Regions from separate parts of the Homo sapiens genome. Here region 1 is linked to region 2. Evidence: fine-mapped QTL for protein levels in blood plasma. Region 2 holds a variant in brackets. A gene starts in the other region. All regions are shown on their forward strands.

Region 1 (8,668 bases), not on the chromosome of region 2:
GGAGGTAGGGTTCTGTTAGAGACCTCAGAGGATCTATCTTCTCTCTGGTAAAGTCCTTTAGAAATCTGCACTTGTACATTTCCCCCATTTTTTAATGCTTTTGGGACTGGGATGGAGGGAAGATAAACCACTAAGGCCAGACATGGAGGAGGGCAAACCCAAGATCACCCGATGGACCTCTGGGAGAAAGACACTCACCTTGATGTGGTACACTAAGCGCCAGAAACTGGAGTCTGAGGATCGGTATCGTCCATCAGGGTAGAGCTGCCACATGATAGGCAGCAGGCTTGGGCCTATCTGGGTGGGGGTCATAGGCCTCCCCAGGACGACGTCTTCCCGACGCAAGAGCACCCGTAACTGTAACCTATCCTTTATCTGAGGAGAAGAAAAGGACAGGGCATACTTTCAGGTTCCGCTTGCCAGGGCTTCTCCAGGCGCAGAAAACCGGAATCCCTCCTGCCAGCCATCCACCCATCTGGGCAGGGGTCCGAGTGTGAAATGATGGTCATCACTGTTCCCTGAAGCTCACTTCCTTAGGCCATGCATGCTCCTCTCAGGGACTCTGGCTGGGCCAGGACCACCAGCACACACACGTGTCTAGCCACCCAGACAGGGCCATGAAAGGCACACTTTTTTCTGGCGGGTTGCAGCGGCTCACACTTGTAATTCCAGTGCTTTGGAAGGCAGAGGCAGGAGGATCGCTTGAGGCCAGGAGTTTAAGACCAGCCTGGGTCACAGAGCGAGACCCTGTATCTACAGGAAAAAAAAAAAACAACAAAGAAAGAAAGAGAGAAAAAGAATACTGGCCTTTTCAATGATGTGAGGCAAAATCTGTCCCACAGTTTGCTAGTGGGTTATTTTTTGTGGAGCATGTATCATGATTTTATGAAAAACTGTCTGGTTCGTGGTTTTGGTGTCACGTTGAAGAAGAGATTTCTCAGAGATTTAAAAAAAGAAATCCACTGAATCTTCAAATTATTTCTTCAAATTTTGATTTTAAAAAAGTAAGTATTTAACTTGATTTTTAAAGTAAAAACATATTTAAAAAATTGAAATGCCAATAAAAATGCAGATTTTGTGGTGGTTAAGAGCCTAGAATTCCAACCCCATTACCTACTAGCAATCTTACCTCGGACAAATGTACATTTTTGTGCCTCAGTTTCCCATCTGTAGAGACACAGTCAACACTCAATAATTTTTGATTGCTACTGGACATACGTGTTCTAATATATTTTTTAATTTTTATGCTTTCTTCAGTGTATGTTTGGAGAGAGTTTGAACATTTTTTGACTCTTTTTCATTGAGTAAATCCAAATACTTGTAAAAGACTTATCTATTTCTTTAACAAAAACTTAACATGGATTAAGGACCCATCTTAAGGCATCACACATTAAAAAAGTCAATATTGATTCAATACCGGCGCTTATACTACGACATCACTTGTTAAATTTGTTTTCTAAATAAAGCCCAGAGGTAGTGGAAAATACTTCACACTCTAGGCCAGTGTTTGCTATGCCTGGTTGACCCTAAACTGTTGAGGGTTCTTTTTAAAAATACAGATTTCTGGGACCCACCTGAGATGATTCCGATAATCGGCCATATGGATGAGTCACTTAGAGATACCCATTTTTAAGGATTAGGACCCCGAAGCCCAGAAAATGCCTGCTGTAGTCAACATTATAGTCACACTCCACAGGCACTGGGTCCACCCCTTTGACCGACATTCCTTTGCGGTTTTCCCACCCTTCTTCCCTGCCTGGAGAACTCCTATTCATCCTCCAGAGCCCGGCTCAAAGTGGCTTCATCTGTGGGGATCCTCCCTGCCCCATAGTGAGTGCTCCTTGAGTCCTCGCCCTTCCTAGGGCATCCCAAGCTCCCAGGGGCTGCCCCTGCTGCCTCGCCATCCGCTCCAAAGCTGGCTGTACCTCGATGGTTAAGGGCAGCCAGGCGTGCTGCTTCTCGTCCAAATACACGAACTTCTCCCAGGCCCACAGGCGGTCCGGGTGGTCGGTGACTGCCTCCCCGAGTGTCGGGCACTCGGCCATGGCGTCCTCGGGCCGCCTAAGAAGCAAGAGCCAGAGCCTCTCAAGGCCGCTCGCTGGTCCCTGGGATGTGGGGCCGACCCTTTATATCCGGGCAGCATGCGGCCGCCACCAAGCGGCGGGGCGGGAGGACGGCCTTGGGGCGGGACCCCGGGTCGGGAGAACGACCTTGGGGCGGGGCGTAAGGCAGGATGGGGCGGGGTTTGTGGGGGTCTTGGTGGCAAGTGAGGGTCCCGCGCAGGCGCTACGTCCCGGCCTGACTTGCTCCCTGGAACGGTGGCAGCTCCTGGGAACGCAGACCCGGCCCCAGCTGGCCCGCGCCTTCCTCGAGGCCCCGGCCAGCAGCGACACCGACCGCCGCCCTCTGCTGCTGCTGGAGAGGCACCGGGGTGACCTTGGCCCTTTCTTCTTCTGGAAGACCCCCCCGCTTCCCTCGGCTGCCGGACCGGGACTCTGGGCCTCTGCTGGGAACTCACAGTCGACACCAGGATGCCCAGAGCCAGGACCCACTCCTCATCTTATGGGATCAGAAGAGACCCGCGCGGGCCTGAGTTAGGCCTGGGCTTTCCCGGGTTCCCTGGATCTCCACCAGCCTGTGCCTTTGAGTGTCAGAGTACGTTTTTTGGCAAAGGACAACTCCTGACGCTCCCTCTCCCTCTTCCATACACAAAGCATGCGTTTTCCACAGGTCTGATGTGCTGTGGACATCTAATAGCTATTACAAAATGGAGAATCATGGGTTTTTGCCCTTGGGCTTTGAGTTTACTAGTGAAAGCATAGTTCGAAATGAATACTTAAAAAGAAATCCCTCCTTCCACCCTAAGATCAATGGATTTGAAAAGTGCCTGGTTTATATGATCAAAACCACCCCTCTGTAAATTACAAGCAATAAGGAAAACAATTTCACTTTATTTTGCAGTAACGCATTCCCACTAAGGCAATTAAGAAAGTCATGCACAATGAAAAACATGTGAAACCAGCTCCAGCCTGGTTCAAACATCACCATGGGATGGAGTTTGGTGTCTCATCTTCCAGCTCTTTCCCAGTTCTCTGACCAGGCACTAAGAACATAATTTGTGATCCTTTGAAATATCACCAAAGTGGAAATTAAGAGATCTGATGAGGACATCTGATTCACCTGGCAGCTGGGTATCTGCCTCTTTGCCTATCCAGAGAGCCTAATTCCCAAGAAGGGGCTGAGAGGGCCTAAGGTAGTCGAGACATAATGGGATTTACCAGGAACACAACATAGAAGAGAAAAGCCAAGGGAAGTTGGGGGTGGAGTGAGGGCCCTTGAGCTCAGCAAACCTCTTTTCCACTGTAGCCCTTAGTGGTGTTAATATTTAATATGCAAACTTAAAGGTTTCATGCTGATTTTCCTGTGAATGGCTCTTGACTCCAGACCTAGATAGCCACAGAGCAAGATGACAAGCTCGCTAATAAGCTCTGTTGGGGAGGTCTCAGCCCAGGCCAGAGCTGTGAAGTGAGAAATAAGTCCAGTTTAAATAGTGCTGCTGGGATGGACTTTTGTGGCCAGGGAAGGGGTACCCAGGAGCCAGTGTGGCCACTGACCCAGCCTCATCAATGGCCCTAGGATCCAGAATGCCACAAACAATGGAGCAAGAATCAGATCTGTGTGTCTGGGTAAGCAGAATGTTCTGAGAATATAATTCCTTTTTCCTTCTTTTGTAAGAACAATTTATTTCTTCAGTTTTGCATGAGGGCTTCTTAATATTGAGCAAGAATATACATCATTATTGCGTGAGATTTAGAAAATTATTTGAGAGAGGGTTCCAATAAATGAAAATGAATTAAGGATGTCTGTGGAGTTCATTGGGCAACTTATAGAGCCCTTGAGCTTTTTTAAGTGAACATTCCACAAGAGGGGAAACAGTAGCTATTGCATAGTCTCAGAGCTGTCTCTGAGCCTCCGTGGCATGTTATCTGCCCCATCTAAGGGTTATAAAGGCCATAAGCCTAGCTTTAGAATTTTATGTTCCTTTCCAAGTCTTTGTTAGTCTGATTTCCCTGAGGATAAGCAAATGGATGTTTCACACAGAAAGCTACAGGAAGCAATCATTTTGACAGAATCCTTAATGGATGCGTTCATGTCCTGATTTAGATCTAGTTTTGCCTTTACCACGATCACCTGTGAACTTGACAAATCCTTTGCAACTTGGCCTCAGTGCCATAGTTTTGTAATGAATGGGGCAAAATACCTGCTCTCTAAGCTTGTTTCTAACTCAGTAGGCCCCAATCCTCCTATAACATTGCCTAGTGGGAGGAGGGAATAGTTAAGAAAAGAGATGGACAAAATATATGATGTTAGTTCAGGAATGCCTACAGTTTTTGGTACAGTGGCTGTAGATCAAGGACCCCAGTGGAATTCATGGGAGCCATTCTTCTTGTTTGGGTTCCAAAGAAGGGGTTGAGGAGTAGTCAAGGCCATCAGGATGACCTTGACTCAAAGTGTTGTCCCTGGACCAGCTACAGTAGCATCACCTGGAGCTCGTAAGAATGACAGAATCTGGAGCCTCCCCCAAGACTACTGAGTCAGAATCTGTATTGGAACAAGACCCCCAGGTGATTCACGGGCATGGTAAATGTTGGGCTATATGGAGGGAGGGTCAAGAGGGAGAGATAGGGGGTGTCTGATTCAACACACCAGTGCCCTCCAGATTTCTCCAACTATGACACAGGACTTATATCGGTGTTTGTGTATCATTTACTTCCAGGCTATCTTATTTTCTGCCAAAATCACCTCTAATATATAGAGTGTTTTCCTCTTAAAAGAAAATCCTAGTAACCAAGGTCATCCTCACCAACCCTGGGGTCCTTGATTGTCAATGATTATAGCAAGCTGGAAAGAGCCTATTTAGAGGCTACTTAGGTGTTTAGGCCTTTGGGCCCTATGATGACTGAGCCTAAACCACTAAGAATCACCTGGGAAGCTTTAATGAAACACCTGCGCCTGGATCCCACTCCAAACCAATTACATCAGAATCTCCGAGATTGAGGCTTGAGAAAAGTAGGTGATGCTAACACGTAGGCAGGGTTAAGTACAATTTCTCTAAGATCTGAGTGACTGTTTTTGACGTGTGCACAGATTTATAAATCTAAATAACTACGAAAATGTCAAAGCTATTCTTTCTACCATCAATTCTCATTGTAAACTTCACCCCAACTCCATATTTTACTTCTTTCCCTTTGCCCTACTTTGCTGCTTCCAATCCTTCGTGGTCAGGGATCCATAGCCCTAAGTTTATTGGAATCATAAGGGTCTGAGATCTTGCTAATGTGTAAAACACAGAATCTGTGATATATATGTAGCTATTAAGGCATCCATGCCTGGAGTGTTTTGTTTGTTTGTTTGTTTTTTGAGACAGAGTTTCCCTCTTGTTGCCCAGGCTGGAATGCAATGGTGTGATCTTGGCTCACTGCGACCTCCACCTCCTGGGTTCAAGCGATTCTCCTGCTTCTGCCTCCCGAGTAGCTGGGATTACAGGTATGCGCCACCACGCCTGTCTAATTTTGTATTTTTAGTAGAAATGGGGTTTCTTCATGTTGGTCAGGCTGGTCTTGAACTCCTGACCTCAGGTGATCCTCCCACCTCGGCCTTCCAAAGTGCTGGGATTACAGGCATGAGCCACCGTGCCCAGCCTGTTTTTTTTTTTGTTTTTTTTTTTTTTTTTTTAGTTCCTAGGTCTGGGCCATAGTTGAAATAATTAAGGCTGCTGATCAAGTGAGTTCAGGGTACAAAAGATGTTGTAGCCTTTACTCATAAGGGATGAAATGGTATCTCTAAATTAATGGAGAATCTGAGACAAGGATATTTCAAGTAGAAATTAGGGACTGATCCTACTCTGCCCACTACATAGCTATCATCTCTCTCTTTAAAATTAACAGTTCTAAGGAACTTAAAGCTTCTCCAACTTTAAGGTGTATATGGAGATTTTATTTAAATACAGATTCTAATATGGTAGGGTTGAGGCGATTCTCAAGATTCTGAATTTGTAACATATTCATATCCTCGGAGTTGATACAGGTACTAATGGTCTATAAATCACCTCTGGGTGGCAAGGACCTATACTAACCCCCATGCTACCCTTGATACCCACACAAAACACAAATGAAAAACACAACTCACAACCCCTACTCAAAATGCAGCGAATAGTTGATTCTGCCAAGCTAGCGAGTGACCAAGATGTGATAGAATTGCACTGGACACTTTGAGCTACAACTGTGGTTGCCATTTGCCAGAGGCAAGTTAAAATTGACCTACATTTGTACTGGAAACATTTCTCAATCCTGGGATTACTCCACACCTTGGGTGTTACTGTCCTACTGATGCTATGATGCCTACAGCTTTGTTTTTGTTTTTCTGTTTTGTTCAAAAATGTTTTAGCTATTCAGACCTTTTGTGGTTCCATATGAATTTTAGGATTATTTTTTCTGTTAATGTGAAAGTGTTGTTGGAATTTTGGTAGGGATTGCGTTGAATATGTAGGTTGCTTTGAGTGGGATGAACATTTTAATAATTTTAATTCCTTCAATCTATGAACATGAGATATTGTTCCATTCGTTTGTGTCTTCTTCAGTTTCTGTCATGGGTATTTTGTAGTTTTGCGTGTTCAGATCTTTCACCTCATTGCTTACATTTATTCCTAAGTATTTTATTATTTTTTGTAGCTATTGTGAATGGGATTTTTAAAATTTCTTTTTCACATAGCTCATTATTAGTGTATAGAAATGTTACTGATTTTTGTATGTTGGTTTTTGTATCCTGCAGTTTTACTGAATTCATTTATCAGTTCGAACAGCTTTTGGATGGAATCTTTAGGAGTTTTCTATACATACAAGATCATGTCCTCTACAAACCGAGACAATTTAACTTCTTCCTTTTCATTTGGATGCCTTTTCTTTCTTTTACCTGTTGCTCTGATTAGGATTTCCAGTTCTGTGCTGATTAGAAGCAGTGAGAGTGAGCATCCTTCTCTTGTTCCTGATCTTAGAGAAAAAGCCTTAAACTTTTTACTATTCAGTATGACATTAGCTGTGGACTTGTCATATATGCTTCATTGTACTGAGGTACATTCCTTCTAGACCTAATTTGTCGAGAGTTTTTACCTTGAAAGGATATTCAGTTTTGTCAAATGCCTTTTCTGCATCTATTGAGATGATCATATGGTTTTTGTCCTTCATTCTGTTAATGTGATGTGTTACTTTTACTGGTTTGTGCACGTTGAACTATCCTTGTATCCCTGGGATAAATATCATTTGATAATGATGAATGATCCTTTTGATGTGCTGTTGAATTCAGTTTGCGAGTATTTTGTTGAGGATTTTTACATCTATATTCATCAGGGATATTGGCCTGTAATATATTTTTTTCTTGCAGTGTCCTTGTCTGACTTTAGTATCAGGGTAATGCTGGCCTTATACAATAAATTTGGAAGTATTCCTTCTTCTGCAATTTTTTGGAGCACTTGGGAAGGGTTGGTATTAGTTCTTTAAATGTTTGGTAGAATTCAGCAGTGAAGCATCAGGTTGTGGGGCTTTTCTTTGATGGGAGACTTTTTATTACTGATTCAATCTTCTCACTTGTTATTGCTCTGTTCAGATTTTTTGTTTCTTCATGATTCAGTCTTACTAGGTTATATATGTCTAGGAGTTCGTCCATTTCTTCTAGTTTATCCAATTTGTTGGCACAACATTATTCATAGCAGGCTCTTATGAACCTTTATATTTCTGTGGTATCAGTTGTAATGTTTCATCTTTCATTTCTGATTTTGTTTATTTAGGTCTTCTCTTTTTAGTCTAACTAAAGCTCTATTGATTTTGCTCTTTTCAAAACATCAACTCCTAGTTTCCTTGATCTTTTCTACTGTTTTTCTAGTATATTTCATTTATCTCTGCTCTGATCTTTATTATTTCCATTCTTGTGCTAATTTAAACCTTAATTTCTTCTTCTTTTTCCAGTTTGTGGAGGTATGATGTTAGGTTGTTTATTTAAGATCCTTCTTTTTTGATGTAGGCATTTATTGCTATAAACTTCCATCTTAGAACTGCTTTTGCTACATCTCATATGTTTTGGTATGTTGTGTTTCCACTTTCATTTGTTTCAAAATATTTTTAAATTTTCCTTGTAATTTCTTCTTCAACCACTGGTTGTTTAGGAGCATGTTGTTTAATTTCCACATACTTGTGAATTTTCAAAATTCCTCCTATTGATTTCTAGTTTCATGCCATTGTGATTGGAAAAGATACCTGATGTGATTTCAATTTTTTTAAATTTGTTAACACTTGTTTTGTGGCCTAACATATAATCTATCTTATAGAAGGTTCTCTGTGCTCTTGAGAATATATTCTGCTTATGTTGTATAGAATGTTCTGTATATGTCTGTTAGGTCCATTTTGTCTAAAGTGTAGCTCAAGTTCAATATTTCTGTATTGATTTTCTCTCTGGATGATCTCTCCATTGTTGAAAGTGGAGGTATTAAGTTCCCTTACTATTATTGTATTGCAGTCTATCTCTCTCTTCAGGTCTATTAATATTTGCATTATATATTTAGATGCTCTGAGGTTGAGGGTATATACATTTGTAATTATTTTATCTTCTTGATGAA
Region 2 (8,000 bases):
TCAGACACCTGCTTTTTTTTTTTTTTTTTTTGAAAAAGAGTCTGGCTCTGTGCAGTGGTGCAATCTCGGCTCACTGCAACCTCTGCCTCCCAGATTCAAGCGATTCTCCTGCCTCAGCCTCCCGAGTAACTGGGATTACAGGCATGCACCACCATGCCCGGCTAATTTTTGTATTTTTAGTAGAGGTGGGGTTTCACCATTTGGCCAGGCTGGTCTCGAACTCCTGACCTCAGGTGATCCGCCCTCCTCGGCCTCCCAAAGTGCTGGGATTATAGGTGTGAAGCCACAGTGCCCAGCCTGACATCAGACACTTGTACCAGGCCCAAGTAGCATGTGGGTCTGCCCTGAGGGAATCTCACACTTGTGCTGATGGGGGAAGACAGCCTCGCAGCAAGGGCACCAGCTCACGTCATCCTGGAAGGTGGGCCGGAAGGCTTCATGGAGAGGGCGATGGTGAAGTGTTTGCCAGATGGACTGAGGTCTAGGGAGCAGATGGGGGTGAAGGCCAAAGGGGAGCAAAGGCTTGGAGGCCCAAACAGGAAGTCCAGGGAGTGCTGGGACCGAAAGGCTGGACTGGGGCCTTATCTAGCACATTAGGGAGCTTGGACTGTGGCTGGGGGACACGAGGGAGCCACTGGGGCTTTGTGCAGGGAGGACCCAGGAAGATCTGCCTATGAGTGAGGGAACTGTGACTGCAGTGGAGGGAAGCCCGCCCACACCTGCTCCTTTTCTCCAGGGCTATGTGTCCTCTCCTGCTCACCTCTGTGTCTCACTGCGGGCCCCTCCTGTCTATCTCTGCTCCCCAGTGTTTGGGGTCCCCAACTGTCTGTCACCCGTGTCTCTCTCAGACTGCGTCTCAGAAACACACACAAGCCCCTCCGCCCTCCTGGTCACATGCTACCCCCTCCCCAGGGCCAGGGCTGGAGGGAACTCTGGGAGCTCAGGGCTCAGCAGAGAGCATGGGGTTAAATGCCACACATGCCACCCAGACCCCTAAGCACTCAGGGCTGGGGAAGCACAGTGAGAGGAGAAACTCAGGGGCTGGGGAGGGAGCCTGGGGGCAGAGGGAGACCCTGAGCAGCAGCGAGGGGGAGGCAAACACTCCAGGCGGAGGGCTGCAGGGGCTAAGGCTTGGAGAGATGAAAGGGGAGCCTGAGCTGCTCTGGGGGCAGGCATGGCCACTGCCACAGGGGATGCTGGGAGGGAGGAGGGAGCATCCGGGCTGCGGATGGGCAGGGCACCAGTCCCGGGGCAGTACAGAACCTGGGGGTGTCTGGGTAGGAGGGAGATTCTGAGCTGTACCTGCAAGGGTCCCTCTCTCTGGCACTGTGGCCCACGTCCAGGGCAGGTGGCCCAGGGCAGGGGATGATGCAGCGGCTGGCCATGGAGTGAGGGGAGCAAGGCCGACCCCCAGGTTTCCAGCTTGGGAGACCCTGAAGGTTCACAAAGAACCCCAGTCAGCCAGCCCTGACTGGTGGGCGCTGGCCCACCCTCTCCATCCCCTGTACATG[G/A]GCCAGCAGCTCCCAGGCAGGAAGGTGTGGGCGGAGGGGAGCTGCAAAGGAGAAGTGGGGCTGGGGGCAGGTGTGGGTGAGCGTGGGTGTATGGTGATGTGGGGGTGGGGGCAGGTGTGGGTGAGCGTGGGTGTACGGTACAGGGATGGGGGACAGGACCCTGGAGGGGAGCCAGGGCAGGGAAGGCCTCTCTGTGAGGCAGAGAGGTGGGGACAAAGCCAGAAGACTGAGCCATAACCCTGCCACCCACATACACGTCCATCCATGTTGGTGCTGGTATTACCCATTAGTGAGGGCTGCAGAGGCCTGACTGAGTACCAGGCAGCTCATTTAGCCCTTGTGCCAGCCATGTGGGCAGACTGAGGCTTGTGGGAACCCAGGAACGGGGAACCTGTCCCTGGAGAGGGTGGCCCAGTGAGGCCAGAGTCGGGAGAATTTACAGGAGTTAGGAGGAGGGGGTCCGCCTGCCCCAGGTCTGCGTTTCACAGCAGAAGCACTGGCTGCTCTGACCCCCAGCAGAGACTCGAGGAGACTGCTCTCAAGGCCAGAGAGAGTGGGAGGGCTGGAGCCCACTGTCAGAGTTCCAGGGTCCCTTACCTTGGCCAGAGAGGGAGGCCAGCTGCTAAGAGCAGCAGACACAAATGAGACACCCACTCATGTGACACAAATGTTTGCTGGGCGCTCCCTATGTGCTGGGCCAGGTGCCGGGACAAAAGGCCTGCGGGATTCGTGTCTGTGTTGTGTGCAGGTGCCTGGCCTCACATGAACCTTTCCACTTGGGCCTCCTAAATGGGGTGGGGGTGGGGGGCTGCAGCAGGCCCTGTGTCGCTACTTGGATGACAAAACAGTTAAGAAGAATTCACAATCAGACCAATGTGGGGAATGTTAGTTTACTCCTCAATGTATTCTTATTTCCCCGTGGCTTTTTTTTTTTTTTTTTTTTTTTTTTGAGACGGAGTCTCTCTCTGTCGCCCAGGCTGGAGTGCAGTGGCGCAATCTCCGCTCACTGCAAGCTCCGCCTCCCAGGTTCACGCCATTCTCCTGCCTCAGCCTCCCGAGTAGCTGGGACTACAGGCGCCCGCCACCATGCCCGGCAAATTTTTTGTATTTTTAGTAGAGACGGGGTTTCACCGTTAGCCAGGATGGTCTTGATCTCCTCACCTCGAGATCTGCCCGCCTCGCCCTCCCAAAGTGATGGGATTACAGACGTGAGCCACCGCGTCCCTTTTTTTTTTGAGACGGAGTCTGGCTCTGTCACCCAGGCTGGAGTGCAGTGGCGTGATCTCGGCTCACTGCAGCCTCTGCCTCCTGGGTTCAAGCCATTCTCCTGCCTCAGCCTCCCACGTAGCTGGGACTACAGGCACGGGCCACCATGCCTGGCTAAATTTTTTTGTATTTTTAGTAGAAATGGGGTTTCACCATGCTAGCCAGGCTGGTCTTGAACTCCTGACCTCAAGTGATCCACCCACCTTGGCCAACACGCCTGGCCTAATTTCTTTTCTTTTTTTTTGAGATGGAGTTTCACTCTTATCGCCCAGGCTGGAATACAGCAGTGCGATAAGCAACACCCAACTCAGCTCACTGCAACACCCAACTCCCAGGTTCAAGCGATTCTCCTGCCTCAGCCTCCTGAGTACGTGGGATTACAGGCACCTGCCACCAGGCCCGGCTAATTTTTTGTATTTTTAGGAGAGGTGGGGTTTCGCCATGTTGGGGAGGCTAGTCTCAAACTCCTGACCTCAGGTGATCTGCCCACTTTGGCCTCCCAAAGTGCTGGGATTACAGGCATGAGCCACCACTCCTGGCCTAATTTCTTTATTCAAGTCTTTTTTTTTTTTTTTTGAGATGGAGTCTCGCTCTGTTGCCCAGGCTGGAATGCAATGGCACGATCTTGGCTCACTGCAACCTCCACCTCCTGGGTTCAAGCGATTCTCGTGCCTCAGCCACCCCAGTAGCTCGGATAACAGGCACGTGCCACCATGCCCAGCTAACTTTTGCATTTTAGTAGAGACGGGGCTTCACCATGTTGGCCAGGCTGGTCTCGAACTCCTGGTCTCAAGCGACCTGCGCGCCTCGGCCTCCCAAAGTGCTGGGATTACAGGCGTGAGCCACTGCACCCGGCCACCATGCTCTACTTTTAATTCACTGAATACTCTTTTTAAAAAGATAATTTGGGCCTGGTGTGGTGGCTCATGCCTGTAATCCCAACACTTTGGGAGACCGAGGCGGGTGGATCACCAGAAGTCAGGAGTTTGAGACCAGCCTGGCCAACATGGTGAAACCCTCTCTCTATAAGAAATTTAAAAAAAAAAAAAAATTAGCCGGGTGTCGTAGCTGGCGCCTGTAATCCCAGCTACTTGGGAGGCTGAGGCAGGAAGAATTGTTTGAACCCGGAAGCCAGAGGTTACAGTGAGCTGAGGTCGTGCCACTGCACTCCAGCCTGGCTGACAGAGCGAGACCCCATCTCAGAAAAAAAAAAAATAATAATAAAATAACAAGATAGTTTGGGGTCTTCAGAGAGAAGGGGGTTTCTGTCGATTTTTGTGCCCCAATTCTCCTGAAGACACCCTCACAAGGATCTGATGCAGGTACTATTAGGACATTTTCCAGATGAGAAAACAGAGGCTTTAAGGGGCAAGGGCCCTCTCAAGATGAGCCAGCAGATGGGAGGGGCCTGCAGGGGGTCTGTGTCCACCTGACTGTGAAGCGTGGCCTGGGCCCTACATGCTTCAGGGACGGGGTTGGGGAAAGTGAGAGCACTCTGGGGATGGGACAAGCACAGTGTCATGGGGAGCAGTCCTTGGGGACAGAGAGGCCCAGTCCCCCAGATCTGGATGTGAAACTGCTCTGGGGCCTGGGATGCACTCTGTACTTCAAAATCAGTTTTCGTTGTAATTATGCAGTAGTACCTGAACACGTGCTCAGGAAAAACCTGCAAACAATACAGAAGTCTATGAGTGACAAAGGGCGTTTCCCCACGGTCCCCAGAGGGAGTCTCTGTTTTCCCTTGGGAGCCTTTCTTCACTGCCTGGTTCTGTGCCTTTGCCCCCTCGTGTAGGTGTACACACAAACAGCTTTTCCCGTGTTCCAGGAATGGGGTCAGCAGTGGAGATGGCTCTGCTGGCTGGGTTGGGCCTGCAGGGCTTCGAGTCAGCTCTCTTGGCTCCATTTTGTCTCATGACAGCGCCAGGACCACCCCTTGTGGTTATTTCCTTTCCCTTCTCCTGTATTTAAAAGCCCCCACAAACAAGTACAATGCTACAGAGTACCTCTTGCTGGGGCCAGGGGAAAGGATGCAGTGCCGTGGGCCTCGGTTCATTGGGAGAGGGCAGAGTGGCCACGGAATCAGCACAAAGTCCTGGCGAGTCCAGAGCAGTGTGACCCAGAGGCAGAGGCCTGGGAGTCCCCAGATCCCGTTCCTCCCCGAACCCACACCAGGGGAGGGCAGGTCACGCCCTTCCATGAAGCAGTCACAAATCCTTGCCTGGGTCTTCATGGGCTGGAGCTGCCTGTCATCCAGCCCGCCACTCCATGCACACGTGCGCACACACGCGCGCTCCTGCACTCCACAGGGTCTGGCCAGGGCACCCCAGCCACTCTCAGCATGGCCCCGGGATAGAGGACATGGGCCCTCCATGTGAGACTAGAGGGCAGACCACAGCCCTTTAGCCACAGGGAGCAAAGCCCCCACCTCTTGGGGGCCAGGTGTGTGAAGTAGAGGGAGGCTGTAAGGCCAGGGTAGGCAAGGGGGAGAGGAACGGGGGCCCCCAGGGCCAACCTCCCAGGCCTTATTCAGGGTACCACGCAGGAAGGCCCTTGTGAACGCAGAGGCCGACCCCTGCGCGGATGCCTCCCCGTCACTCGCCACTCACTCACTTAGCACCTACCAGGCACCAGGAGCTGTTTTGGGTTCTGGGGAAATAGCAGGGAAGCAGAGAGGAAACCCAAATGGGACACAACGTAGTGGGTGGGGAGGTAAGGAGTGCTGGGGAGAAAAAGTCAGAAGGGCAGGGTGCTCGAGGGTTATGGGTGCAATTTCAAACAGGGGAGTCAGAGAAGGCCTGGTGGATGGTGACCTCGGAACAGAGGACAGGGTGGAGCGATCCCCAAGGATGTCTGGGGGAAGCAGAGAAGGCCCAGTGACCAGGAAAAGGGCTGTGCGCAAAGCATCTCCCTACCCGGCCGTCTCCTCCCTCAGCCCTGTGTGGGGCTAGCACGACTGGTCCCACTTTACAAAGAGGGAAAGCAGGCTAGAGTAAAGGGGCCCGCCAGGCAGCCCCTGAGCCTGCCACACTACACACATCAGTGGGGTCCTCTTCCCGTGTGCGGACAGCGGCAGGGAGAGGGGGTGGGGGTGGGGGTGAGGCCCAGGGGTCTGTGTCCTCACAGGGAGGCTGGCCAAGCATATTGGAGGAGGAGGGCTGGGGGACCCCTTGGGCCTGGCCAGCTCGCAGGGGCCCCAAGTTCGGCTGGCATACCCTTTGATGGAAGAGGGCGGTCCAGGGAAGGCTGCCTCCTGTGCAGGTCCGGGGCTCTGGGAAGTACCTACCCACTCTCCCCAGGGAGCTGCCCTCAGCAGCCCCCAGTCCACAGCATCCCATACTCAGGTGGGACCCGCAGACTTAGGGTACACAGCCTGGCAGCCCACCCCACTGTCTCCCTCAGCCCCCAAGTGTGAGACATTCTTTCACAGAGACTCTCTGCCTGTGTCCTTCTGACCCCAGGGTACACTGGAGGGGAGGGGCTAAGCCAACAGAACCTTCCAGAAAACGTCCCTTTGTGCTCGAGCCCTGCCAGCAGGCCTGGCCCAGCACCCCTGATGCGTGTGGGTTGGGGGCAACTGTAACAGGGCCTTGTCTCAAGAACCCCACGGCTCTCCTCGCCCACCAGCCTGCCAGCCCGTACCGAGCCACTGTCTGTAGAGGGTGGAAGGGCTGGCATGGAGTCAGGCTCTTCAGTTTCTCTCCAAGCCTCACAAGACCTGAAAAGGGGGGCAGGCAGTGGGGCTTGGAGAGGGAAGTGGGCTGCCCCAAGTCACACTGCAGATCAGCCACAGACCCCAAGTCGGTGGGACTCGGAGGCTGCTCCTGTTCCCACTGCACCACTTCCCCTCTGCAGCTGGGCTGCTCCTGCCTCTGCTCACCGGGGGTGCAGGAGACACGGGGCCCAGGCTGCAGAGCCCCTCCTTGCTAGGAAGGTCCTGCCTCCTTGGTAGGGATGGGAAACACCATCAGATTGAGGCCAGGACACTCGGGCCTGGACCACTGGCCATGGAGAACGTGAACTCCCTGGGGTCCCAAGGACTGCTCACAGCCAGGTGGAATGAGGGGGACAAATGAGTGTGTGACTCCGAGTAAGCTCTACTCCTCTAAGAGTGGGGCCCAAACACCACCTTCCTTCCAGCTTATAAGAGCACGGACGGGGCAGCTTCCAGGCCCAGCTGAAGAGGCGCCGCTTCCAGTAGCCTTCGCCCCCCCATTCCCAGCCTGTAGGCCTAGGGGGTTCTTGCCCGCCTTCAACATCCTGCAATGACCACGTCATGACCATGGCCACCCTGAGGCATCTGACATTTGTTTAAAGCTTTATGTTCAAAATAATGGGCTTGAGGCCAGCAATTTGAGACCAGCCTGGGCAGCATAGCAAGACCCCATCTCTAAATAAATACATAAAATAGTGGCTTCTTCATTGCCAGTCCTCAACTAGCTAGGAAGAAAGGCATCGGTTAGCCTGGCGCCACGCTACAGCTGAGGAACTGAGGCTTGCCGAGGGTGAGTGACCTGCCTGAGGTCACGCCACCAAGCAAGCAGCCAAGCCCAGCCTCTCCCATCTCCCTCCACCTTACCTCAGTACCAAGCCCCAATTCCGGCACACACTGATCTTCCATTACTTCCCTCAGCCAAACTGTCTCCTGGACAATGTCACTGGGTCTCCAGATGGCGTGAAGCAACCCCACTCTCTGGCCACCCATCCCCCGCCTTCCAGGGACAGCAGGTCTGAGGGCACCTGCCTGCCATTTAAGTGTGGCTCAGCTCTGCTGTGAGGCAGGGGCAGGCCAGCCCCCAACTCTAGAGGGGAGGCCTCCTGGTTCCAGGGCCCCTGCCAAGCTCAGCTGGGAGCTGGCGGCAGTGACAGCACTGTGTTCCCCAGTGCTTGGAAGGTTCCCAGACTCTTGGCTGGAGAATGCGATGCCACTTCTCTTGTTAAATGGTACCAGGTGGCAAGGAAAATGTGGCACAGGGACCTGAGAGAGGTGCCCCATGCGGGCATGGGGGGGAGGGGGTGTGGGGGAAGGCCTCTCCTCCTGGTCGCCAGCAAAAAGTGACATCCCAGATCAGGCAGGCTGCATCCACACCGCCTTCCTCCCCTGCTTGGACACCCATTCCATCAGCCCCGCCAAAGACCTACTCTACCCTCCAGTTACCCTGCAAAGACACGCATTCTGGCCAAGGACAGAAGGGCCAAAGACAAGGTCACTCTCTGGGAAGGCTG

Alleles and levels. Positions count from the first base shown, and alleles are read on the strand shown. Strength reflects both the effect of a copy and how common the allele is.
As copies of G replace A in region 2, the plasma level of the protein whose gene starts at base 2,104 in region 1 goes up (weak association).

What was found. PIP is the chance, under the fine-mapping model, that this variant and not a neighbour inherited with it causes the effect. The UK Biobank Pharma Proteomics Project read protein levels with antibody pairs (Olink). The fine-mapping took linkage between variants from a reference panel, not from the people measured, so its PIPs are less certain.
Region 1: it holds the start of TCL1A, and the variant in region 2 is fine-mapped to the plasma level of the TCL1A protein (UK Biobank, PIP above 0.99).

What each region holds. Positions count from the first base shown.
Region 1 is chr14:95,712,022-95,720,689 of GRCh38, forward strand. It overlaps TCL1A (TCL1 family AKT coactivator A), which reads right to left and starts at 2,104. Exons shown (of 4, transcript NM_021966.3): 1 at 1,926-2,104; 2 at 199-375. The coding sequence starts at 2,045. LOC107984703 (a long non-coding RNA gene) reads left to right here and starts at 3,462. Exons shown (of 3, transcript NR_148060.1): 1 at 3,462-3,686; 2 at 5,450-5,547. RefSeq lists enhancers at 165-264, 305-464, 505-724, 1,839-1,888 and a silencer at 2,119-2,358.
Region 2 is chr22:41,927,502-41,935,501 of GRCh38, forward strand. It overlaps a transcript of CENPM not described here. Among named protein-coding and RNA genes, the nearest start is that of TNFRSF13C, 4.7 kb to the left of the region's middle. RefSeq lists enhancers at 1,091-1,160, 1,304-1,914, 1,915-2,524, 5,068-5,575. The variant G/A (reference allele first, on the strand shown) is at 1,512.